Linked DNA regions of Homo sapiens. The protein of the gene in region 6 interacts with the protein of the main gene of each other region in a pairwise test. Each region holds a gene or a part of one and is shown on either strand. Other genes may lie near its edges.

The links.
Region 1: the proteins of USP25 (region 6) and PRKACA interact in binary tests that used the Homo sapiens proteins (3 or more experiments, as listed by UniProt).
Region 2: the proteins of USP25 (region 6) and VPS45 interact in a two-hybrid assay, tested with the Homo sapiens proteins (one large-scale study listed by BioGRID and IntAct).
Region 3: the proteins of USP25 (region 6) and MID2 interact in binary tests that used the Homo sapiens proteins (3 or more experiments, as listed by UniProt).
Region 4: the proteins of USP25 (region 6) and PUS10 interact in binary tests that used the Homo sapiens proteins (3 or more experiments, as listed by UniProt).
Region 5: the proteins of USP25 (region 6) and RSL1D1 interact in a two-hybrid assay, tested with the Homo sapiens proteins (one large-scale study listed by BioGRID and IntAct).
Region 7: the proteins of USP25 (region 6) and SYK interact in binary tests that used the Homo sapiens proteins (3 or more experiments, as listed by UniProt).

What each region holds. Positions count from the first base shown.
Region 1 is NC_000019.10:14,100,763-14,104,262, forward strand, and holds part of PRKACA (cAMP-dependent protein kinase catalytic subunit alpha), read right to left. Parts: intron 2,153-3,500; coding exon 2,054-2,152; intron 147-2,053; coding exon 64-146; intron 1-63.
Region 2 is NC_000001.11:150,070,776-150,074,275, reverse strand, and holds part of VPS45 (vacuolar protein sorting-associated protein 45), read right to left. Parts: intron 2,111-3,500; coding exon 2,050-2,110; intron 1-2,049. UniProt on the Homo sapiens protein: May play a role in vesicle-mediated protein trafficking from the Golgi stack through the trans-Golgi network.
Region 3 is NC_000023.11:107,835,866-107,839,365, reverse strand, and holds part of MID2 (probable E3 ubiquitin-protein ligase MID2), read right to left. Parts: intron 1-3,500. UniProt on the Homo sapiens protein: E3 ubiquitin ligase that plays a role in microtubule stabilization. Mediates the 'Lys-48'-linked polyubiquitination of LRRK2 to drive its localization to microtubules and its proteasomal degradation in neurons.
Region 4 is NC_000002.12:60,939,723-60,942,489, reverse strand, and holds the end of PUS10 (tRNA pseudouridine synthase Pus10), read left to right. Parts: intron 1-56; coding exon 57-95; 3' UTR 96-2,267; downstream 2,268-2,767. UniProt on the Homo sapiens protein: Protein with different functions depending on its subcellular location: involved in miRNA processing in the nucleus and acts as a tRNA pseudouridylate synthase in the cytoplasm.
Region 5 is NC_000016.10:11,845,043-11,848,542, reverse strand, and holds part of RSL1D1 (ribosomal L1 domain-containing protein 1), read left to right. Parts: intron 1-736; coding exon 737-875; intron 876-1,699; coding exon 1,700-1,848; intron 1,849-1,940; coding exon 1,941-2,042; intron 2,043-3,500. UniProt on the Homo sapiens protein: Regulates cellular senescence through inhibition of PTEN translation. Acts as a pro-apoptotic regulator in response to DNA damage.
Region 6 is NC_000021.9:15,834,482-15,837,981, forward strand, and holds part of USP25 (ubiquitin carboxyl-terminal hydrolase 25), read left to right. Parts: intron 1-3,500. UniProt on the Homo sapiens protein: Deubiquitinating enzyme that hydrolyzes ubiquitin moieties conjugated to substrates and thus, functions in various biological processes including inflammation and immune response.
Region 7 is NC_000009.12:90,839,819-90,843,318, forward strand, and holds part of SYK (tyrosine-protein kinase SYK), read left to right. Parts: intron 1-3,500. UniProt on the Homo sapiens protein: Non-receptor tyrosine kinase which mediates signal transduction downstream of a variety of transmembrane receptors including classical immunoreceptors like the B-cell receptor (BCR).

The DNA.
Region 1 (3,500 bases), on a different chromosome or scaffold from region 6:
GGTCGTGCACTGCCACCTGTGGACACCCTGACAGCCTGATGTGATGGGGGGTGGCCCGCTTACCTGAACCTTCCGATCCGCCGTAGGTGTGAGAACATCTCCCCGCCGGGCACGTACTCCATGACCATGTATAAGTTTGAGTTGTCCTGTGGGAAGCAGTGGCTGGTCAAGGGCCCACCCCTGAGACTTGGACCCGATCTGAAGGCCTTGGGGGCCTCCCCGGCTGGTGTTCAAACATTAAATGACAACAGCGATCCTGGCTCCCTGTAGGAATCATGTTCTACAGGGGCGACCCTTATCCTGCTGTTAATGGGTGAAAGTGAGGGCTGGCTCAGAGGTATGTCAGGACCTGGTTAGCCTGCCTTGGCTGGAGAGAGAACTCTGTAGTACCTTGCTCTGGGAGCTTGAGTAAGGCTCTGAGGCCACAGTTTTGTCATCTGTAAAATGGGATCATGATAGGCTGCAGAATTAGTGGGGCCCAGAATAAAAAAGATGGCCCCTGGTTAAAAAATTATTACAGAGGGTCGGGTGTGGTGGCTCATGCCTGTATAATCCCAGTACTTTGGGAGGCCAAGGTGGGTGGATCACTTGAGCCTAGGAGTTTGAGACCAGCCTGGGCAACATAGTGAGACCCCGTCTCTGCAAAAATACAAAAATTAGCTGGGCATCATGGCGTGCACCTGTAGTCTCATACTCAGGAGACTGAGGTGGGAGGATTGCTTGAGCCTGGGAGGCAAAGGTTGTGAGCTGTAATTGCGCCACTGCACTCCAGCCTGGGCAACAGGGTAAGACCTTATCTTAAACAAAACAAAACAAAATGGCCGGGCACGGCTCACACCTGCAATCCCAGCACTTTGGGAGGTCGAGGCAGGCAGATCACCTGAGGTCAGGAGTTCAAGACCAGCCTGACCAACATGGGGAAACCCTGTCTCTACTAAAAAATACAAAATTAGCCAGATGTGATGGCACATGCCTGTAATCCCAGCTACTCGGGAGGCTGAGGCAGAAGAATTGCTTGAACCCAGGAGTCAGAGGTTGTGGTGAGCTGAGATCGCATCATTGCACTCCAGCCTGGGCAACAACAGCCAAACTCTGTCTCAATAAAAAAAATAAAAATTAGGCTTGGCACAGTGGCTCATGCCTGTAATCCCAGCACTTTGGGAGGCCAAGGCAGGCAGATCACTTGAGGTCAGGAGTTCAAGACCAGCCTGAGCAACATGGCAAAATCCTGTCTCTACTAAAAATACAAACATAAGCTGGGCATGGTGGTGGGCACCTGTAATCCCCGCTACTCAGGAGGCTGAGGCAGGAGAATTGCTTGAACCCAGGAGGCAGAGGTTGTAGTGAGCCAAGATTGCGCCACTGCTCTCCAGCCTGAGCAACAGAGTGAGACTCTGTCTCAACAAAAAAAAATTATTACGGATCTCAAGACAGCAGCAGCAGCAAAGCGTTAAACCAGGTGTGGGGTCCCTCGGAGAACAGGCCCTTGTGCTTCTCTGGGTCAAACGTCCATGAAGCTGGCCCTGAGTGGCCTTTCCTGTTTCTCATGACCACAGCTTTGGATGGCACCCAAAACGGCTCCCAAAGGGCGCTCAAGACGTGCCTGGAACTGTCATGACAACCCCACCAGGCTGGAACTGGTATGATCCCCATTTTACCATGAGAAAGCTGAGGCTTGGGGAGATAAGTCTCTTGCCCGGGGCCACACATCAAGAAGTACTGAACTGGGAAATGAACCCCGGCTGCCTGGGGCAGAGTTTGTGCTCCTGGGTCAGGCTCTTACCATAAACCAGGTGCTGCTTTTGAGGGATGTTACTGAGGTTGGGTGACTCACCAAGGGTATCGAACTACAAACTGGCTGGACCAGGAACTGAACTTGGGTCTACCAGAGTCCCAGCCTGACTCCTGTCCCCTGATCTCCCTCCTCCAGGGATCTTGTTCTTCCACAAAAGAGAGCAGCCACTGATTGTCCTCAGCTCCGACCCCAGCCCTGGGGGCCAGAAGGCTGGGACCCAATGCAGTGACCCCCCGCCCTTGGCCACTGGGACCCCACCTTGAAGGAGAACTCGAGTTTGACGAGGAACGGAAAGTTGACAGCTTGCAGGATGCGCTTTTCATTCAGGGTGTGTTCGATCTGTTTCAGTTTCACCACCTGGGAAGGGAAGGAGGGGAGGGCAGAAAGGAGGGGGAGGTGAGAGGGGCCTCATTTCCCCTAATGCCTGGAACTAGGGATGCCGGAGCCAGGCCGGTTCCTTCAGCCAGAATCATTTGTGTGCCTGTGGCCTGTCGGGCCCTTAGCTGATGCTGAGGACACAGCATCAGGGAGGCTAGGGGCTGCTTGTCCTTGCACGGCACTAAGTCCAGGGCAAAGAATACATGGGTTACCCCCACAGAGGTCAGAGCCGTGGTGGAGGGTATCTTGGGGTTGTGGAGAAGCAGCCCCCAAGAAGCCCATGTAAAGTACCTGGCGTGGTCTGGGGAAGGGGGAATCAGACAGCGCTTTCTGGAGGAAGGGGCAGCTGAACTGAAATTGAAAAGACAGGCAGGAGAAGCCCAAGAGGTGGGGGGTTTAGGACCTGCCTTACCCTTGTCTAGAACACTCCACACAGCAACCTGAACCTCAGGCTAACAGCTCCTCAGCCATCAGCTGTCCCCTAATAGCAGATGCCATGAGCAGGCACCTGGCACCCAGTCTCTCACTGAATCAGGATAGAAGCCCTAGAGGCCCATGCTGGGAGTACGCCAGTTTGGAAGACCAGACACAGAGGGGAGGTGACTTGTCCAAGGTCACACAGCTGGCTGATGTCAGGCTGGTGTGTAACATGTGGCCAGCCTGGTCCCTCAGTCAGCTGTCAACTGCTTTGCTCACATAGCTGTGTCCTCAGAGTCTATACCTGCCCTACCCAGTTCAGTCCCCATTAGCCACAGGGGGATGCTGGGCCCTTGAAATATGGCTGGTCGGATGGGGAGCCAAATTCAAAAATTTTAAGTATCTAAAATATAAATTAAAAAACTGACACCAGCTGGGCATGGTGGCTCACGCCCGTAATCCCAGCACTTTGGGAGGCCCAGGCAGGTAAATCGCTTGAGCCCAGGAGTTTGAGACTAGCCTGGGCAATGTAGCGAGACCCCATCTCTACAAACAACAACAAGGACAACAAAAGCAATTAGCTGGGCATGGCACGACTATGGTCCCAGCAGCTCCAGAGGCTGAGGTGGGAGGATCATTTGAGCCCAACTGCACTTCAGCCTGGGCAACAGAGCAAGACCCTGTCTCAAAAACAAAACAACCAGGCCGGGTACGGTGGCTCACGCCTGTAATCCCAGCACTTTGAGAGGCCGAGGCAGGTGGATCACGAGGTCAGGAGATCGAGACCATCCTGGCTAACATGGTGAAACCCCGTCTCTACTAAAAACACAAAAAATTAGCCGGGTGTGGTGGCGGGCGCCTGTAGTCCCTGCTACTCGGGAGGCTGAGGCAGGAGAATGGCATGAACCCG
Region 2 (3,500 bases), on a different chromosome or scaffold from region 6:
TGAAGCGGGCGTATCACCCAAGGTCAGGAGTTTGAGACCAGTCTGGACAACCAACACGGTGAAACCCTGTCTCTACTAAAAAAAAATACAAAAATTAGCTGGGCGTGGTGGTGTGTACCTGTAATCCTAGCTACTCGGGAGGCTGAGGTGGGAGAATCGCTTGAACCCGGGAGGTGGAGGTTGCAGTGAGTTGAGATGGCGACACTGCACTCCAGCCTGGGTGACAAAGCAAGACTGCTTCTCGGACAAAAAAAAAAAACAAAAACAACACACACACACACACAGAACAGCCTGGATGACTCTCCAGAGAATTATGCTGAGTGAAAAAAGCCAGTCCCAAAAGATTATATGCTGTATGATTTCATTTATAGAACATTCTTCGAATGACAAAATATAAAATGGAGAAAATATTAGTGGTTACCAGGGTTAATGAGGGGGTTGGGGTGGGACAGAAGTCCATATAAGCTAATAAAAGGGATCCTTATAGAGATGAAAATGTTGTGTATCCTGACTGTATCAGTGTTAACATCTTGGTTGTGATATTGTACTATCATCATGTAAGATACTACACAGGGGGAAGCTGGGTAAAGGGTATCTGGGATCTCTGTATTATTATTCGTTGTTTTTTTTTTAACTGCACATGAATCTACAATTACTTCAAAATAGAAAGTTTAATTTTAAAAAGAAAACCTGTGACTATTAGCCAAAAACAAACAGACAAAAACAAACAAAAATTAAGTTGCCACAGATTAATAAAATTGCCTATTTTTACCTCTTGGGGCGTCGTGCACTGAAAACCCACTGGACAAGCTTTATGTAACTTTTCAATTCTACACAGAACTGAATGAAATAAAATATGAGAGAGCTCTTATATATATATAGTCTTTTCGCAAATGTTAATTTTTTGTATCATTATTCTATTTAAGTAGTATACGCTGAAGAAAGTATGTACGTCTTAGACTGTAGTCTAAACCCTAAAACTCTAATACCTTTAAGTAAGCTTTAAAACTTCTCAAATGCCCTACTTACTGTTAAATCTAGTCCTTGGTTTTGGAAATGTTACCAAATAGACTACACTAACACTATTAACATAAAGATAAATAATGACATCTAGAGGAGAATAGATGTAACTTCTACAGCCGAATGTATTGGATCAAAAAAATCCATGTAAATTGTATAGTAAACACAAACCTAGTTTATTTCCAGATCTCCCCTACCTAACCCCCACTCCAAGAAAGTTGTGCACATAAGAGATCACTACCTGATGATTTATACTTTCAGTGCATTAAATATAGTAACAAAGAGAAGTGAAAGGCTTTTATCTGGTATGTAAAGTAAATTTCTGCTTTTCCAGCAAACTCAAGTATTACCTTCCCACTTCAAAAAATAAATCAGCTTCCATGCCTCAATTTTTAAGTGTAAAACAGGGATAAGTATATACTTTTTTTTTTTGGCAGGGGTGAGATGTGAAATTTGTCTACTTAAAACTTTTGACTTACAAAGCATCTTGAAAGGCAAAGTAAAATGTAAAATTTTTAATTTAAGCAATCAAAGATGAATGGAAATCACATTTAGCCCTCTGAAACAGAATATTGGTCAAAAGTATTTTTTTTTTTTTTGAGATGGAGTTTCGCTTTGTTGCCCAGGCTGGAGTGCAATGGCGCAATCTCGGCTCACTGCAATCTCCGCCTCTCCGGTTCAAGCGATTCTCCTGCCTCAGCCTCCCAAGTAGCTGGGATTACAGGCATGTGCCACCATGCCCAGCTAATCTTGTATTTTTAGTAGAGATGGGGTTTCACCATGTTGGTCAGGCTGGTCTCAAACTCCTCAGATGATCCGCCCGCCTTGGCCTCCCAAAGTGCTGGGATTACAGGTGTGAGCCACCGCGCCCGGCAGGTCAAAAGATTTTTAATACTTTGGAAGGACATTAAATAAACTAGACTTTTATAGTGACAGATTCAATGAAGTTATTGATGATATGAAGGGCTCAATGAAACACACTAACTGGGATGTTGTTACATGTTTGAAAAAGTGAACTAACATACTTACAAATGAAATATATAGTGTATTTGGGTCTTCGGAGCTCCTGAATAATATAATCCACATTCTCCTAGAAAATGAAGAACAAGCAAACAAAATATGAGGAGAGTTGCTTAAGGAAAAAAGTAATAAGCATTCACCCATTGATTTGTTTATTTACTGCGTCTACTGCATATTGAAGTCTAGGTTAAGTGTGCTTATGTTGGTGGGTAAGGGCTGGAGACAAAAGAGATAAATTAAATACAATGATCGGGAATCATATATTATTTAATAATATGTGTATAATATTAAATATTAACCAGCTGCATTTTGGCCAATTAAGATAAAGAATATAAAGGACACAGATGTTGAAACACAACATAAAATTGATTATAATTCTGCAAACTCACATCAAGCTGCTTGTCTATAAATTGTATTCATTTGCTCAAAATTCTTTTTTTTTTTTTTTGAGATTAAGTCTCACTCTGTTGCCCAGGCTGGAGTGCAATGGCACAATCTTGGCTCACTGTAACCTCCGTCTCCTGGGTTCAAGCAATTCTCCTGTCTCAGCCTCCCAAGTAGCTGAGATTACAGGTTTGTGCCACCATACCCAGCTAATTTTTTGTAATTGTAGCAGAGACGGGGTTTCACCATGTTGGCCAGGCTGGTCTCGAACTCCTGACCTCAACTGATCCACCTGGCTTGGCCTCCCAAAGTGTTAGGATTACAGGCATGAGCCACTGCGCCTGGCCTGATCAAAATTCCTATATAGAGCATTAAATGTGTCTATTCCTTTAAAAATTAACATGCAAGAGAAAATAAAGTTAATTATATTCACTTTGGCTTTTAACTTATTGGGATGTAAGACTCTGCACAACTACAATGTTTGTGAAGTATTTGCAAGTAGCAGGCTAAGATCTTTTCTACAATTACATTGTTTTAAAATAAAGTATGAAAGTTTAAAACAAAAAAGTTGATTTTTATATGGTCAAAATATAAGATTCCAATTACATAAGATTATAATGCAGGTTTTATTGGTTTTTGATACTATAACACCTGGTTAAATTTCAATATAAATTGTTCCCTAAACATATTAATTTGTTTTAAAAATCACATTTCTTTACAGAATTAAAAAAAAGTAAGCAATATATACTGCTTATTAATGGGGAAAGGGTTTTAAAAATTGTAATTTAGATTTAAAAATGCAATTTAGATTTCAAATTAACTTTATAATATAATCTTAAGGCAAAAAATTTAAATAATAAATCTTTTAAACCTCAATTACTTCCTCGTAATATGCTAGGCAAAAATAACAAAGTGAATTAAAAGATTCTTAAAAGTTCAGACAATGTGGAAAAAGACAAAAGAGAATATATAAAAGAGGAAAAAGAAAAAGGAAAGATTCTTTTTTAAAAATTATTTTTAATTTTTATTTTATTATTATTTTTTGAGACGGAGTCTTGCTCTGTCGCCAGGCTGGA
Region 3 (3,500 bases), on a different chromosome or scaffold from region 6:
AAAAAAAGCCACCCAACTGACAAGAAACCAACCTCTTGGTAACTCTATCTATTTTTCCACAGGCATTTCTGTGCTGAACACACAGGTACCTAATTCTTAATTGCCTAGAGTCTTCCATTAATTAAAATACACACACATAAATATTCTAAGTTGTCTTTAACTAAGGAAAAATATAAAACATATCTTACTGACTGAAAATGTTAATCCTATGTATAGGAAAGAAAAAGGGCATCTTTCTTGCTTTTTTTTTTAACAAGGTGTCCCTCTGTCATTCAGGGTGGAGTGCAGTGGTACAATCTTGGCTAACTGCAACGTCCACCTCCTGGGCTCAAGCGATCCTCCTGCTTCAGCCTCCTGGGCTCCGCCTCCTGGAACTCCAGGGGTATGCCACCAAGCCCAGCTAATTTTTGTTTATATTTTTTGTAGAGACGTGGTTTTGCCATGTTGCCCAGGCTGATCTTGAACTCCTGGGCTCAAGCAATCTGCCCACCACAGCCTCCCAAAGTGCTGGGATTACAGGAGTGAGCCACAGAGCCAAGCCCAAGAAAAGCATTGTTTGCTTTTGAGTAGCTTTTGTTTATTATCTTGTCATCATTGGAGACTCTCATCAGAGCTTGAAAATTTTGCTCTGCCATTGGTATTTGTTCAGATATTGTCACAGGATACATAAGTACTGAGTACAATTATACTTTATGCCTAAGTACAATAGATGTACACCTAAAAGCTGTTTCTAAATCAAACCTTTTAAATGCACTGAACTAACTACCTATTTAATGAAAATCTATATGAAATGAGGTTATAAAAGTGAAGAATCTTTTTGTAAATCAGTCACTCAGTTGGTTTAGTAGATTCAGATGTTTGTACAGCCAGTTTTTTTAAGTGAGACAAGGTATTTTTCTTTTAGAATTTACAGGTGCTTGAAAGTTGTTGGCCAGTATTTTGTAGCTTATAACATCTATCAACGTTCACCCATACAGATGAAAAAGTAAACAATTAAAATGTACATACATCATTGAATCTTAGAATTGGAAGAGACTTTTGAGAGATGAAGATTCCAACTTCCACTGACAGCAGGAATATTGCCTTAGAGAGCTCCATTTGATATATTACTCAGATTCTCAAACTCAACATGTCTATAAATGAACTTGTTGTGCTCCTCCTCACCTCCACAAAACAAAACAAACAAAAAACACCTGCTCCTCTTCTGATTTTCCCTGTCTGGTGAATATCACCATCCAAGCCTAGAAATCTAAGAGATCTCTCATCTACATGTTTTTATCACCTCAACCACTGGTGGCTTCCAGAACATTCTGTTTTATTTCACTTACATAGCTGTATTTCCAGCTAACTCTTCCTTCTCCTTGAGAGTATCAACTATTTTATATTTTCATTCACAGCACAAGTTTGTGCTTCACACAAACTGTATTCAATAATTGTTAATGAAGTATCACTTAAACTAGGAGTAAGAAGGGGTCTAGCATTCATTGAGCATCTCCTGTATTCTGAGTACTATGTTAAGCACTTTACACATTATTTCACTAATTCTTTCAGGAAACTTGTGAGGAAGTTACTATTACTGTATCCACCTTACAGTTAGGAAACTAGGGCTTAGAATCATTAAATAAATCAACCAAAAACATACATACCCAGAGCACAGGTCAGTATAATTCCAATGCCTGTGCTCTTTTCCCTTACCTTTATTTCAATCATCTCACCTCCTTCACTGAGGTTTATCTGGACCATTTACAAGACAGTTTTTTTTTTTTTTGAATTCTGGAAATCTTTACTTTGGTATATTTAACATAGTTTATAGAGTTTTTTTTTTTTAAACAGCATGTTTCTACGTCTATTTTTATCTCTCTCTGTCTCTCTTACTTTCTCTGAATCTGCCTATTTCATTCTGAGTTCCTTCCAGAATCATATCTCTGTCTTCTAGGCCCATCTCCACCTCACACTGCACTTCTATTACTATCTCTTCTAGAACTGTATGCCTGCATTCCTCAATGTCTGTGTTGGAAGCTACCTGGGTTGGTCACATGTATTGCTGAAAGCCATGTCTATGTATGCTGAAAACTATATAACAACAATTAGAGTACCACAGCTTTCCTAAGGCTTAAGAGGGTGCCATATAAATTGTCCTGTACAGAGGAAAAGCTCTTAAATTTTGTTTGGAAATCTAAAATTTATTTCCAAGTCAGTGTGACACTTGAACCTCATTATGAAATTAAGCTTGGGAAAGCACGCTATGGGTCAGGATTGCTTTGGGTAAGGTCAAAATAGGATTTATTAACCGGGGACTTCTGAACTTCCTAGAACTGTTTGCAGAATGTGTTTGTATGTCATATATGCATTTTTCCTGGGGAAAGGGTTGCCCATAGCTTTCAAAAGATTCTCAAGAGTCTTTGAAAGAAAAAAACCCAATCATTAGTACTCTAAAATAACCTACCTTAACTTATTTCAGCTCTGTAAAGAATATTTTAAGATAGTTACTGCCTCTTGCTTATTTTAGCTTTTCTAGACTGTTTCGAATCTGTTTGATTTTTAATTATCATATATTAACTGTTTTAGCCAATTTTCGGGTACTGAATACTTTTATCAACTTCTTCAGACGTGTTCAATCATCTCTAATTTATGAGGCTTTCTTGTTCTGGGTACTCCTAATATTTTAGAATCCTTTCAATTATCCCCCATTTCCCCTACCTTTCTGGTTATCTAAGCACCTGAACAATACCCTTTATGCGCATTGCCTCATTTACTTTTCACAACAACTCTCTAAAAGGTAGGTATTATCATTATTTAAAAAAAAAAAAAAGTAGGCTGGGCGTGGTGGCTCACGCCTATAATCCCAACACTTTGAGAGGTTGAGGCAGGCGGATCACAAGGTCAGGAGATCGAGACCATCCTGGCCAACATGGTGAAACCCCGTCTCTACTAAAATACAAAAAATTAGCAGGCGTAGTGGCGCATGCCTGTAGTCCCAGCTACTCGGGAGGCTAAGGCAGGGGAATTGCTTGAACCCGGGAGGCGGAGGTTGCTTGAGCCGAGATCGTGTCATTGCACTCCAGCCTGGCAACAGAGCGAGGCTCCGTCTCAAAAAAAAAAAAAGTAACTTGTTCAAGGTCACACTTGTTTCTAAGTGGCAAAACTAAGAATCAAACTTAGGATAAAACTTTAGAAATAAACCTATATATATCTATGGTCAACTGATTTTCAACAAGGGTTCCAAGACCATTCGATGGAGAAAGAATACTCTTTTCAACAAATGGTGCTTGGACAACTGGATATCCACATGCAAGAGGATGAAGTTGGAGTTCTACTTCATATCATTTATAAAAATTAACTCACAACAGATCAATGATCTAAATGTAAGAGCTGAAACTATAAAACTCTTGGAAGGAAAGATAGGCATAAATCTTTGTGAACTTAGGTTAGGCAGGCAACAGTTTCTCAGATGACACCAAAAGCATAAGCAACCAAAGAAAATATACATAAATGGTACT
Region 4 (2,767 bases), on a different chromosome or scaffold from region 6:
CAAATGCTTACCACAACAGTAATATCTGTTTTAATGACTTCTTTTCTCCCTTCTAGTCTGTAGATGTTGACTGGCCACCTGCTCTGGATGACTAGCTTTCAAATTTGGAGACAAAGAGTATGGTTTTCCTGGCATGATGTGGACATCCATGGAGCACATGCCGTAAAATGGCTGTTTACCCACCATAACGGTGTCTTGAAAACTATTTGGATCATGTTGATCTATATAATTGTTAATTTGTTGTAACATCTCAGGATCTATATATGTGTATATTTTGTGTTAAATTGTTCCAAGGATGTCTTAGGATTTTTCTCATTCCCTCTTTCACCCCCACAAACCAAACTATGAATAATGAAATAATTCTCCTTAATTCTTTCATTTAGAGAGGTGCACAAACAGGACACATTCTCTGTTAACCTAAGAAGCTGTAATTTCAGCAAGATTTCCCTCCACAAGAGATATACCACCTTTAAAATCATGTTCTAATTTTTGTAAATTATCTGAATAAAAGTTATATCTAGATTTATGCAGCATAATATCCTATAATAGTCTAAGATTGCAAATGCAAATCTGACATCATTATTTTCCCCAGGAAGCCTCAAACAAGCTATTACCAATGAAGTTCTTTTGGCTGTGATTTGTCATAAATCTTAACCAAACTATGAATAATGAAATAATTCTCATTAATACTTTCATTAAGAAAGAATTTTGACAATCTAAAATTGTCAATATAGGTTTCCTGTGGAGGGAAAGTAAAACCGTAGGAGCCAAGGCATGCCATGGTAGGAGCCTTTCATAAATCTTTTAAATAAGGAGAAACAAGTGCCTTTAATAACTTCAATCCCAGGGTTAAGAATTTGAAAAATTGAGATTGCTAAACAAAGACGAACTGGTATTATTTCAGAATGCTTCAATATATTATCCAATTATAAACATTTTAATAATACCTTATTAAAGTAGATAGGATATTGTCTCCATTTTATAAATATGGAAACCAAAGACTAGAAGTTAAATGACTTATCCAAAATTGTTAGCTACTTCTATATTGAGGACTAGAACTGAAGTTTCTTGGTTTCTAGGGTCTTTCTAATAAGCCCTATTACTGAGCACCTGTTTGTGTGAAGGGGCAGCTATGGATGCCATTTAAACTCATGTAACTGATAATTAACTTTTGGAATGTAGTTACCAAATCAAAGAGCTTACCAAAAAATAGCCCAAGACTATTTAATACAATCTTATATAGTTACCATTTGTTATTAAGTTAAACCTCAGTTGGTATTATGAAGAGGAAAAACATTAAGCTAAACCTAAAAAAAATGAATGGGTCATTTAAGTTTCAGAAAGGAGCCTCATTACAATTTCAGATTTGAGTATAATTTCCATCACCCTAATTCAACTATTTGAGCTTTTTTTAAGAATACATGTGACTTGACTAGTATTAGATTACTAACCATTTCCCATCTCTATATTAAACATAAATCACAGATACCAAGATTCACTTTAGATATGAGGAAAATGGTTTTAATGGACACAAAGGAGTCAGCCACGTTGGAACCAACATAGTTTCATACCACGTTGAAACCATGTGTTTGATATGCAAATAACAGCAAATAATTTTTTCACTCTTGTCAATGCCAATGCATTGAAAGGCCCAGAAAATGAGAAAAGGATAACAAACTTTTGATAAAAAGGTAAGAATTTCTGTGTGGATGTTCCTCAGTTTCTGGGAAAATTTTGCTACAAAAGAGATTTAAATAATTTAGGAGGCAGTCTTTTGCATGGTATTTTTGGCTTACCTTTGAATCTAGTGGACCTGTAATATGTAAGAATGAAGAATGTGCTTAGCAAACTGAAATGAGAAGATTTCTATTTCTTAAATTTCTATTCCTGAGATTATATAAAATTTCACGCAAAGAGTAAGCATTAGCTTTAAATACTTCTTCCAAATGTTCCTAGAATTTTGAGACAAAGATTGTTAAAAATTAATGTATGTCTTTGTTTTAGGCAGAACTGGAAATATTAAGTAGTGAGAGTACTATAGTTTCCCTTTTGCCTACATAAAAGCATTTTAAAATTAGTTTTATGATTTCTTTGTAAGCTTTATTTAAATTCAAAGTCTTTTTCATAACACTTAAGAGAAAGAGCCCTTTGTACTTCTTAGTATCTCTTATATAGTCCCAAATATAGTCTGTGGTTTATTTTAGGAAAAACATCAACTCTGAATACCTGGAAAAGTCAAAAGAAAATAAAGTTGGTAAAATGAAAAATGTCCAAGTAAGAAAACCGGTTACATTTGCAAGTTATGTGAAGTAAATTTAGAAGTTAAATTTCCATTTTGTAAGAGAAAAACATCTTACTTGGCAAATCTTTTCTTTTGGAGCTAATTATTCTTTGATTTTTAAGTCCACATAAGAGAATGAACTTTGATATCAGCTTTTCTGATTTTTTAACAAAGGCTACCCTTGTTTATTATGAAAAATATTACTTTTATGATTCTATTTTGAATTTTTAAATTTTGAAATAATTCCAAACTTACAGGAAAAGTTAAAGTACAAAGAACCTTTTTCCCTGAACCATGGAGCCAGTGCTGTCTCATGATCTTAAAGGCTTCAGTGTGTAATTTCTACAAACAAGGACATTCTTTTACTTAACCACAACACAGTGATCAAAACCAGGAAATTAACACTGGTATATTACCATCTAACCCACAGACCCCGTTCAAGTTGCCAGTTGTCCCATCAGTGTCCTTCATAGTCAAGTGCTCACA
Region 5 (3,500 bases), on a different chromosome or scaffold from region 6:
AAAAAAAGGAAAAGAAGAAAGAGTTATTATGTTTATGGAGCTAAGAGTTTTAAAGAAGGTAAAATTCTGAACCAGGCTTGTCCTGATTAAGCTAGGTTTTTATAGCGCATTACAGTACGTGTGCACATACAGCAACATATGTATAATAATTATATATGCAAGCATTTGGAAGTCTTTAAGTATATTTTAATTCTTGTTGTATCCCAAGTGTTAATTGATATTTGGGCCTGTGTGTTTTTGTGATTTACTTGCCATTGAAAGTGAGTTTTGTTTTTTGTTTTTGTGTTTTGAGACGGAGTTTGCCTCTTGTTACCCAGGCTGGAGTCCAGTGGTGCGATCTTGGCTCACTGCAACCTCCACCTTCCGGGTTGAAGCGATTATCCTGCCTCAGACTCTCAAGTAGCTGGGATTACAGGCACCTACCACCGTGCCTGGCTAATTTTTTATAATTTTAGTAGAAACAGGGTTTCACCATGTTGGCCAGGCTGGTCTTGAACTCCTGACCTCAGGTGATCCATCTGCCTTGGCCTCCCTAAAGTGTGGGATTACAGGCTTGAGCCACTACTACCGGCCATGAAATGTATTTTTAAGTGTTGTTCTTGGTGCATTATTTGCTTAACTAGCATGACTAAAAGTTATTTAAATAACACTAAGTTTATCGCGTATTCTGTGTGATACAAACATGCATAATGTGTGTAATAATGCTTTCCTCGGTTTCTTTTCACGTATTTTGTAGGACCTTGCCTCATAGTATTCGATCAGATTCAGAAGATATCTGTTTATTTACGAAGGATGAACCCAATTCAACTCCTGAAAAGACAGAACAGTTTTATAGAAAGCTTTTAAACAAGCATGGAATTAAAACCGTTTCTCAGGTAGGAAGCCTGGTTAATATTTTCAAGTTATTTAGAGGATTTAATTCAGGCGAAATGGTATCACAAATACATTGCTATATTTCCTAGTATTTTTCTTCTACTTTTCTCTTTTTAATTTAATTTGTGGTGGCGTGTACATCAGTAGCTTTTATATCTTGCAAATTATAAAAGAGGTGGCTCGTGTCATTCCTCTGTACTTCCACAGCATCTTGTTTTTCTCTGATTTGCTGTTTTGTAGTTGGTGTACTTGTCTTTATTACCCTCTGGATCTAAGGTATCTAAGTTTTTTTGTTTGTTTGGAGTCTCGCTCTGTCGCCCAGGCTGGAATTCAATGGCAGGACCTCGGCTCACTGCAACCTCCACCTCCCAGGTTCAAGCTATTCTCCCACCTCAGCCTACCGAATAGCTGGGATTACAGGCACCTGCCATCATGCCCGGCTAATTTTTATATTTTTATAGAGACGAGGTTTCACCATGTTGGCCAGGCTGGTCTTGAATTCCTGAGCTCAGGTGATCCACCCACCTCGGCCTCCCAAAGGGCTAGTATTACAGGCGTAAGCACATACAGCAACATATGTATAATAATATATATATGTTGCCCACCTAGATCTAAGTTGCTTTAGCTGGGGTCTTTTCTCATTTGTCTCAGTGTTCCCAGCATGTAGCGTAGTGCCTGGCACATTTTAGGCCCTCAAGTGTTCATTAAAGTATAGAGGCATGGCTCTAGGACATTTTTAAATCCAAATCCAAATTGTTGCCTAAGTATTTCTTCTCCTTGTTTAGATTCCTAACTTCTTGTTTTTATTCTTCTCTATACTTCCTAGATTATCTCCCTCCAAACTCTAAAGAAGGAATATAAATCCTATGAAGCCAAGCTCCGCCTTCTGAGCAGTTTTGATTTCTTCCTTACTGATGCCAGAATTAGGCGGCTCTTACCCTCACTCATTGGGAGACATTTCTATCAAAGAAAGAAGTAAGTTTCTTAGTAATGACTGGACTTTAGCAGCATGAAGCTTCTAGGTGTGTATGCATTGTGTTCTGAATGCCTGTGTGTTTATTTTGTAGAGTTCCAGTATCTGTAAACCTTCTGTCCAAGAATTTATCAAGAGAGATCAATGACTGTATAGGTGGAACAGTCTTAAACATTTCTAAAAGTGGTTCTTGCAGGTAGGTAAAAGGCATTCATGTGTGCCTCTTTTAATCTTGTATTTGACAATGATTTTATATATACTTATTCGTTTTGTTTTGTTTTTTGTTTTTGTTTTTTTTTTTTGAGATGGAGTCTTACTCTGTCTGCCAGGCTGGAGTGCAGTGGCACCATCTCGACTCACTGCAAGCTCCGCCTCCTGGGTTCACGCCATTCTCCTGCCTCAGCCTCCCGAGTAGCTGGGACTACAGGCGCCTGCCACCACGCCCGGCTAATTTCTTTTTGTATTTTTAGTAGAGACAGGGTTTCACCGAGTTAGCCAGGATGATCTCGATCTCCTGACCTCATGATCCGCCCGCCTTGGCCTCCCAAAGTGCTGGGATTACAGGCGTGAGCCACTGCACCTGGCCTTTTTAAAAAGATTTTGTTAATGGCTCCAGATCCTTTTTTAAAACTAAAATCTATTCCTCAGAAGTGATCAATTCTCGGGTCAGGTGCAGTGGCTTATGCCTGTAATCCCAGCACTTTGGGAGGCCTAGGCAGGAGGATCGCTTGAGCCCAGGAGTGCAAGACCAGCTTGGGCAACATAATGAGACCCTCTCCCCCAGCCAATTACAGAAAAATCAAGAACATTAGTCAGGTGTGGTGGTGCATCCCTGTGCTCCCAGCTACACAGGAGGCTGTGGCAGGAGGATCACTTGAGCCTAGAAGGTCAAGACTGCAGTGAGCCATGTTCTTGTCACTGTTCTCCAGTCTGAATGACAGAGCAAGACTGTCTTTAAATGAAAAAAAAAAAAAGTTCAGTTCTCTAGAACAATGTTGTCTGATAGCACTTTCTACTGTGATGGAAATGGCCTGCATCTGTGCTGTCTCATACAGTAGGCACTATTTGTATGTAGCTATTGAGCACTTGAAATGTGGCTACTGTGTTAGAAGCTGAATTTTTAGTTAATTTAAAATAGGCACATGTGGCTAGTGGCTGATGGTCACTGCATTGGACGGGGCAGCTCCAGATACTAAGAAAAGCAAGGAGAGTAAGATGAATGCTTGGAGAACATGACTAGTTCTAGGCTTTGAGCTTGTCCTTTATCGTGCCACTGCACTCAGTGGTGCAGTCACAGTTCACTGCAACCTCCAACTCCTTGGCTCAAGCAATCCTTCCACCTCAGCCTCCTGAGTAGCTGGGACTACAGACACACATCACCATACCTGGCTAATTTTTCAATGTTTTGTAGCGGCGGGGTCTCACTATTTTGCCCCATCTAGACTTGAACCCCTAGACAAAACCGGTCCTCCTGTCCTGGCCTCCAAAAGTGTTGAGATTATAGGCGTGACCCACCACACCTGGCCTCAGATTGTCCTTTAAAAGCACCATATTACCCCTTAACGTGAAGATCCACCTCATTCTTGGTTTAACTTCCTATTAAATGAATTCAGCACTTATCCTGTTCATCTGCCTATTTGGTGTGTGTGTTGTC
Region 6 (3,500 bases):
GTTCCAGCTTTTGTTTGTTTAATTTCATCTTTCGCAGACAGAGGTTTCCTTGCAGCATTACCTGGTTGGGCTTCAGCATTATCATTTGAACTTTAGAAGGAATTATTACTTCAATAGAAGATTGTTTTACAGTGCTACAATGTAGTATTGTGACTGTCGCAGGCATGCACAAATCTGTCCAGATACTTAACTTATTTTCATGTAGATCAAATAATTGTCGTTGATTTTGATCCTGAGAGGCAGATAATTCAGCATTTTTTAAAAAGATAATGGTATCACAGCAACATTTGGATACTACAGTGCTATGGAGAATACCACCATTATAGTGGCTGGTGAACTCTACCATTATGTAGGGCTGCACTTTTCCCCCACGTGTACAAGGCTACCGCGTAGAGCAGGTGAAGCTATGTGGGTCCACAACAATGTAGTTTTTAGTAGATGTCAAGAGGTATCTAAGCTCAAATCACAGTGTAGTAACTATATTATAGTTCCTTTCATTTTTAAAACATTTCTGTCCCTTTGTGATTTCATGCTTTGCATTCTGTACATATTCTTTCCAAATCACTCCTCAGAACCTGCCCCAAGATGGAGCTACTGTGTTATTGTTCCCTTAACATTTACTTATTCCATTCACATGTGACTATTCTTGTTATTAGTGGGAGGAAGGGGCTGCATAGTGTACTATAAGCAGTTGTGGTACCTAAGCTCCCAGACACAGGTGAATCCTCCATTCATTGGTTAAGCTCCAGTTTTATTCTTGGCTCACCTATATTTTGTGATACCAAAATATTAAGTTCTATATATCCTCCTCCTCTTCATCCTGTCTGTTTCTCATCTCTCCAAATTTTCAGAGTTAACATATTTTATTTCTGCTTAGTCAAACGAATACATATTTCCAACTAATATTCCTATCTATTAAGGACTAGCCTTGCCCCATCCTCATTTTACATTTGTCATCTTTTTTCTTTCTCTGTGAAAAGACCATGTGTGCATAACTGCATCCATTTTCATGATCAATACATCTGACCATACACTTTACATGGTGTTTTGTAATTTTTAAAAAATGCAGTACTAGGTATTGGACATATATTTTCATGTCTGTTTTTACCATGCAAAATAATCTTAGAATGTTGATATATTTCTGGGAGGAACCAGAATAAAAGATGAAGAGATGGAAATGGTCAATTCCTATTCCTAGATAACTTTTATAGTTACCTTTCAGCGTGGGTTATTTAGAAAGCAGTGGTAATACTACTTCTGTAGGAAACATTGTATCCTCCATAGACTTGACGGAAATATGCACTTGGTTTGAATTAGTAGAAGTAGAACATGCCAAGTCCATAAATTTACAGAGTGAGATTGTTGTTTAAAAGATTGGTTTCTATTACTGTTATCTTTGAGATTATATTAAGAAATTTGTTCTCTGTTGCAGGATAGTTTCACATATCATAATTGAATAAGACTAATGTTTCATTAGAACCATTTATTCCCTATTATTAATAGGGAAATTTTATTTTAATGTCCATGCCATCCTCTTCTGATTCTTCTCATGGTTTTCAAAGTAAGTAATTTAATTTGGTATAATACTTCCAGGATCTCAAAGCAAATCTGTATTTTAATCTCTCAGGTGTTCACTAGTATTACCAGTGACTAGTGGAAATAATAAAAGGAAATCTTGTTCATAAAATCCAACAGAATGATTTTTTTCCTCCCTGCAAAATCTTCTCGTTAAAGCTGAAACATAAGACCTCATAAAATTCAATTTCTACTGAGTGATATTCCAATTAAGAGTACTAATTCATATTATATTAATCAAATTAGTATTTGTTCCTCTTCTGCTAAAATGTGATCGAGAAATTCATGCGTATCAGTTCACCAGCACCATTCGTTCCCTACTGAGATAATAAATGATGGGAAAGTATTTTTTGGTTCATTTCATGCTGCTTCCCTAGATCTGCTTACTGCAAAGGCAAACTTACCTGAATACTTTTGTTGAGATTTTCAGCCAGCCATTCTTTGCTGTCAGTGTGGGGATCAGAATGAGTAGGGGAGCAAACTTACCTGAATACTGTTGTTGAGATTTTCAGCCAGCCATTCTTTGCTGTCAGTGTGGGGATCAGAATGAGTAGGGGAGCAAACTTACCTGAATACTGTTGTTGAGATTTTCAGCCAGCCATTCTTTGCTGTCAGTGTGGGGATCAGAATGAGTAGGGGAGCAAACTTACCTGAATACTGTTGTTGAGATTTTCAGCCAGCCATTCTTTGCTGTCAGTGTGTGGATCAGAGTGAGTAGGGGAGCAAACTTACCTGAATACTGTTGTTGAGATTTTCAGCCAGCCATCCTTTGCTGTCAGTGTGTGGATCAGAATGAGTAGGGGAGCAAACTTACCTGAATACTGTTGTTGAGATTTTCAGCCAGCCATCCTTTGCTGTCAGTGTAGGGAACAGAGTGAGTAGGGGAGCAAACTTACCTGAATACTGTTGTTGAGATTTTCAGCCAGCCATCCTTTGCTGTCAGTGTGTGGATCAGAGTGAGTAGGGGAGCAAACTTACCTGAATACTGTTGTTGAGATTTTCAGCCAGCCATCCTTTGCTGTCAGTGTGTGGATCAGAGTGAGTAGGGGAGCAAACTTACCTGCATACTGTTGTTGAGATTTTCAGCCAGCCATCCTTTGCTGTCAGTGTGTGGATCAGAGTGAGTAGGGGAGCAAACTTACCTGAATACTGTTGTTGAGATTTTCAGCCAGCCATCCTTTGCTGTCAGTGTGTGGATCAGAGTGAGTAGGGGAGCAAACTTACCTGAATACTGTTGTTGAGATTTTCAGCCAGCCATCCTTTGCTGTCAGTGTGTGGATCAGAGTGAGTAGGGGAGCAAACTTACCTGAATACTGTTGTTGAGATTTTCAGCCAGCCATCCTTTGCTGTCAGTGTGGGGATCAGAGTGAGTAGGGTTTTTTTTTCTGAGTGTGAACAGCACACCCTACCTAAGGCCACTTAAGAGACACTGGAGTCAGAATCTCTGGAGAAAGGATCTGATACAGTGCTATCTTAAAGAGATCTTCAGATAATTCTGAGGTTAAGCAGCATGGCTCTAGGCTGTATTTATAAAACAGAAATTATGCTGGAGAGAAGAGCGTTGTCCGAGTTACTATTTTACTTATATTACTCTTGTCTTATCCAAGAAGTATCTGAAGTCCTTACAATATAGCACACCCAGATTTCTTTAAAAAATAAGGAAACACTAGTGAAGATTGGAATGAAGTGTATTGCGTAAGGTTTTATAAATTTCTCTAGAGGAAGCAGGCAGAGTTGGCTCTGGAACTTCTCTACACTGTCTACAAGTTAAAAATAAGCTGATGTTCCAGGAGAGTACGGTTGGATCCTGAGAGTAAGACCTGGTAGAATAAACAGTATCGTCAGTGTTCTCAGATTCCTTGAAAGCAGGAACTAGGTGATATTCTTTTTTTTTTTTCTGAGACAGTTTCACTTTGTTGCCCAGG
Region 7 (3,500 bases), on a different chromosome or scaffold from region 6:
AGGATGACTGAGATGGCTGGGAGGAAGAGCTGCACGCCTCAGCAGAAAGCACACGTGGTGAGAACAAGAAGGGAAAGCCACAGCATCCCGGTGCAGTCCAGTGTGGTCTGTGGACTGGGCATGTTGGAATAGGCAGGAAGGGCTGATGTGCGCTTTGAGGGAGGACCGGGCAGCTGGAGAGGGAGGCGTCAGGAAGCAGGAGGGCAGAAGGTGAGGAGTGAAGGGCAGCAGTGGAAAGGACAGGGTTACGCCAAGCAGTGGTCATGGATATGGGCAGTAAGGAACATGCACCAAGGGCGCCTGGAAAACGAACCTTAGAGAACGCAAGTCCTGCGGAGGACTCCTGGGTTCCTGGCTGGGACACCGCCTGGGCAGGGAAGGCAGAGAAGATGGAGAACCTGGTCTCAGGTGGCATCAGAACCCAGCATCCGCATCACCAGGATTGCAGGAGCAGCAGCGTCTCAGGCCCTGGGTGTGTCAGAGCCCCCAGGCCACGTGGAAGTATGAGACGTGCTGGGCTGCAGGGGAAACAATGGAAATGAGGTTGGAGGCCCGAGAAGACCCACTGCAGGAAAAGGGTGGAGTGGGGGAAAAGCAGGCTGGGGGCAGTGGCTGGCCTGCAACAAAAGCATTGTAGAATGCAGGCGTGAGCCACCGCGCCCGGCCAAGGCGGGCAGATCATGAGGTCAGGAGATCGCGACCATCCTGGCTAATGCGGTGAAACCCCGTCTCTTCTAAAAAAAAAAAAAAAAAAAAAACTGTAGAAAGGGGAAAGCAGTCCAAAGAGAAGTATTTCTTCCAAGAGACTCATCAGCACACTGTGTTTCCAGAGATGTCTTTCTGTTAACAGCATTCTTAGACTCAAAAGTAAATGTAGATATACTTTAAAAAACAAAAACACCTTGCTAAGAGATGAATTTTTAGAAACTTGTTGGACAAAGAAAAGTCATTGATAGTCAACTGCTGTGAGAGGCAAGCCAGGAAATGATGATTAATACCCTCAAATTATAATAAAACCCATGCCTCATTAGGGGCTCGCCCAGGAGTACTGACTTGTGGATAGACACCGTCTGGGGAAAACTCTGTCGCCTGTGTCAGGCTGATGCTCTTACATTTTATAGCCCCTTGTAGGATAGTGCATGTTGAGAAGAAGCCGCTTCACATCATCGTGGTGCAGGATCTGTGGTGTGGTGTGCTTCATGTGTGTGTTTTGTGTGTGTAGTGTGTATGTAGTGTAGTGTTAGTTGTGTGTACTATGGTGTGTGTGTGGCATGTATGTAGTTTGTGTGTGGTGTGTGTGCAGTGTGTGTGATGTGTGTAGTGTGCATGTAGTGATGTGGTGTGGTTTGTGTGTGTTTTTATGTGTAGTGTGTAGTATGTGTGTTGCATGTAGTGTGTTGTGTGTCGTGTGTATGTAGTTTGTGTGTGTGGTGTGTTTGCAGTGTGTGTGGGTGTGTACTGTGTTATGTGTGTAATGTGTATGTAGTTTGTGTGCTGCACGTAGTGTGTTGTGTGTACTGTGTATGTAGTTTGTGTATACTGTGTGTAGTATGTGTGCAGTGTGTGTGTAGTTTGTGTATGACGTGTGCAGTGTGTGTAAGATGTGTGTAGTGTGTTGTGTGTGTAGTGTGTATGTAGTTTGTGTGTGTGTGGTGTGCGTTTAGTGCATGTGTGGTATGTGTCCATATGTGTGGCATGCATGTAGTGGGCATGTAGTATGGGGGTGTATGTGTGTGGTGTAGTGTGTGTGATGTGTGTAGTGTGCATGTAGTTGTGTGGTGTGTTTCGTGTGTGTTTTGTGTGTGTAGTGTGTATGTAGTGTAGCATGTGTTTAGTATGGTGTGTGGTGTGTATGTAGTTTGTGTGTGATATGTGTGTAGTATGTGTGATGTGTGTAGTGTGTACTGTGTGTGGTGTGTATGTATTTTGTGTGTGTGGTGTATGTGATGTGTGTAGTACATGGTGTGTGTAGTGTGTTATGTGTGTAGTGTGTTGTATGTGGTGTGTATGTAGTTTGTGTGTTGTGTGTGCAGTGTGTTATGTGTGTTGTGTGTGTAGTGTGTATGTAGTCTGTGGTGTGTGTGATGTGGGTAGTGTCCGTGTAGTACATGGTGTGTGTAGTGTGTGTGGTGTGTGTAGTGTGTTGTATGTGGAGTGTATGTAGTTTTTGTGTGTTGTGTGTGCAGTGTGTGATATGTGTAGTGTGTTGTGTGTGTGGTGTACGTGTAGTTGGTGTGTGTGATGTGTGTAGTGTCCATGTAGTACATGGTGTGTGTAGTGTGTGTAGTGTGTTGTATGTGGTATGTATGTAATTTGTGTTGTGTGTGCAGTGTGTGTTGTTTGTAGTGTGTTGTGTGTGTGGTGTGTATGTAGTTTGTGTGTGTGGTGTGTGTGTGATGTGCATAGTGTGCGTGTAGTGCATGGTGTGTGTGTAGTGCAGCTGTGGCATGTGTTCGTAGTGTGTGTGGCATGCATGTAGTGTCCATGTGGTATGGAGTGTGTGTGTGTGGTGTAGTGTATGTGATGTGTGTGGTGTGTGGTGTACCGTATGTGATGTGTGTAGTGCGCATGTAGTCATGTGGTGTGTTTCATGTGTGTTTTGTGTGTATGTAACGTAGAATTTGGTGTGTGCGGTGTGTTTCATGTGTGTGGTGTGTATGTAGTTTGTGTGTATGTGTATGTGTGTGGGGTAGTGTGTGTGATGTGTGTTGTGTGCATGCAGTGGTGTGTTTCATGTCTGTTTTGTGTGTGTAGCATGTATGTAGTGTAGCATGTGATGTGTGTAGTGTGTTTCGTGTGTGTGGTATGTATGTAGTTTGTGTGTTTGGTGTGTGTGATGTGCATAGTGTGCATGTAGTACATGGTGTGTGTGTAGTGCAGGTGTGGCATGTGTTCATAGTGTGTGTGGCATGCATGTAGTGTGCATGTGGTATGGAGAGAGTGTGTGTGTGTGTGTGTGTGTGTGTGTGTGTGTGTGTGTACCATGAGGGACATGCGCTTTGCTCCCTGGATAAATGGATGGAGTCATGTAGATAATTTTCCATTCACGACCAGCCCCTTTTGGTTAAAATGTGCCTCCTTGGATACTTTTGGGGCTGGCAATATGTATCCTTCTAGTTTACAACCATGATTGAGAGGGAATACTCTCCATGTTAAATATGCATTGGCCGCCTTTCTTTTTGCTTCTGAAATGTATTTATTTACTGCAAGCAGTGTCTCTCCTGTGTCAGATGTCCTCGTGGGCTGGGAACCGGCACTATCTCTTTAGCACGGGCCCTGCAGATGGGAAGTGGCGTTGCCCAGGAAGTGGTCTGGAGAAGCGGGGAGAAGACAGCCTATGGGCCCCAGGCCTCGGGAGCCAGGGAGGGTGTCACTCTTCATGTCTCAGGCAGTGGCTTGTTGCTATCATAGCCCCGGGCTGGAGGTGGGAAGGCCTTATGGTGACCACAAGTCACAGTTCCGTGTGGGCCCTCAACGTGGCCTCACTTCACCTCTGGGGC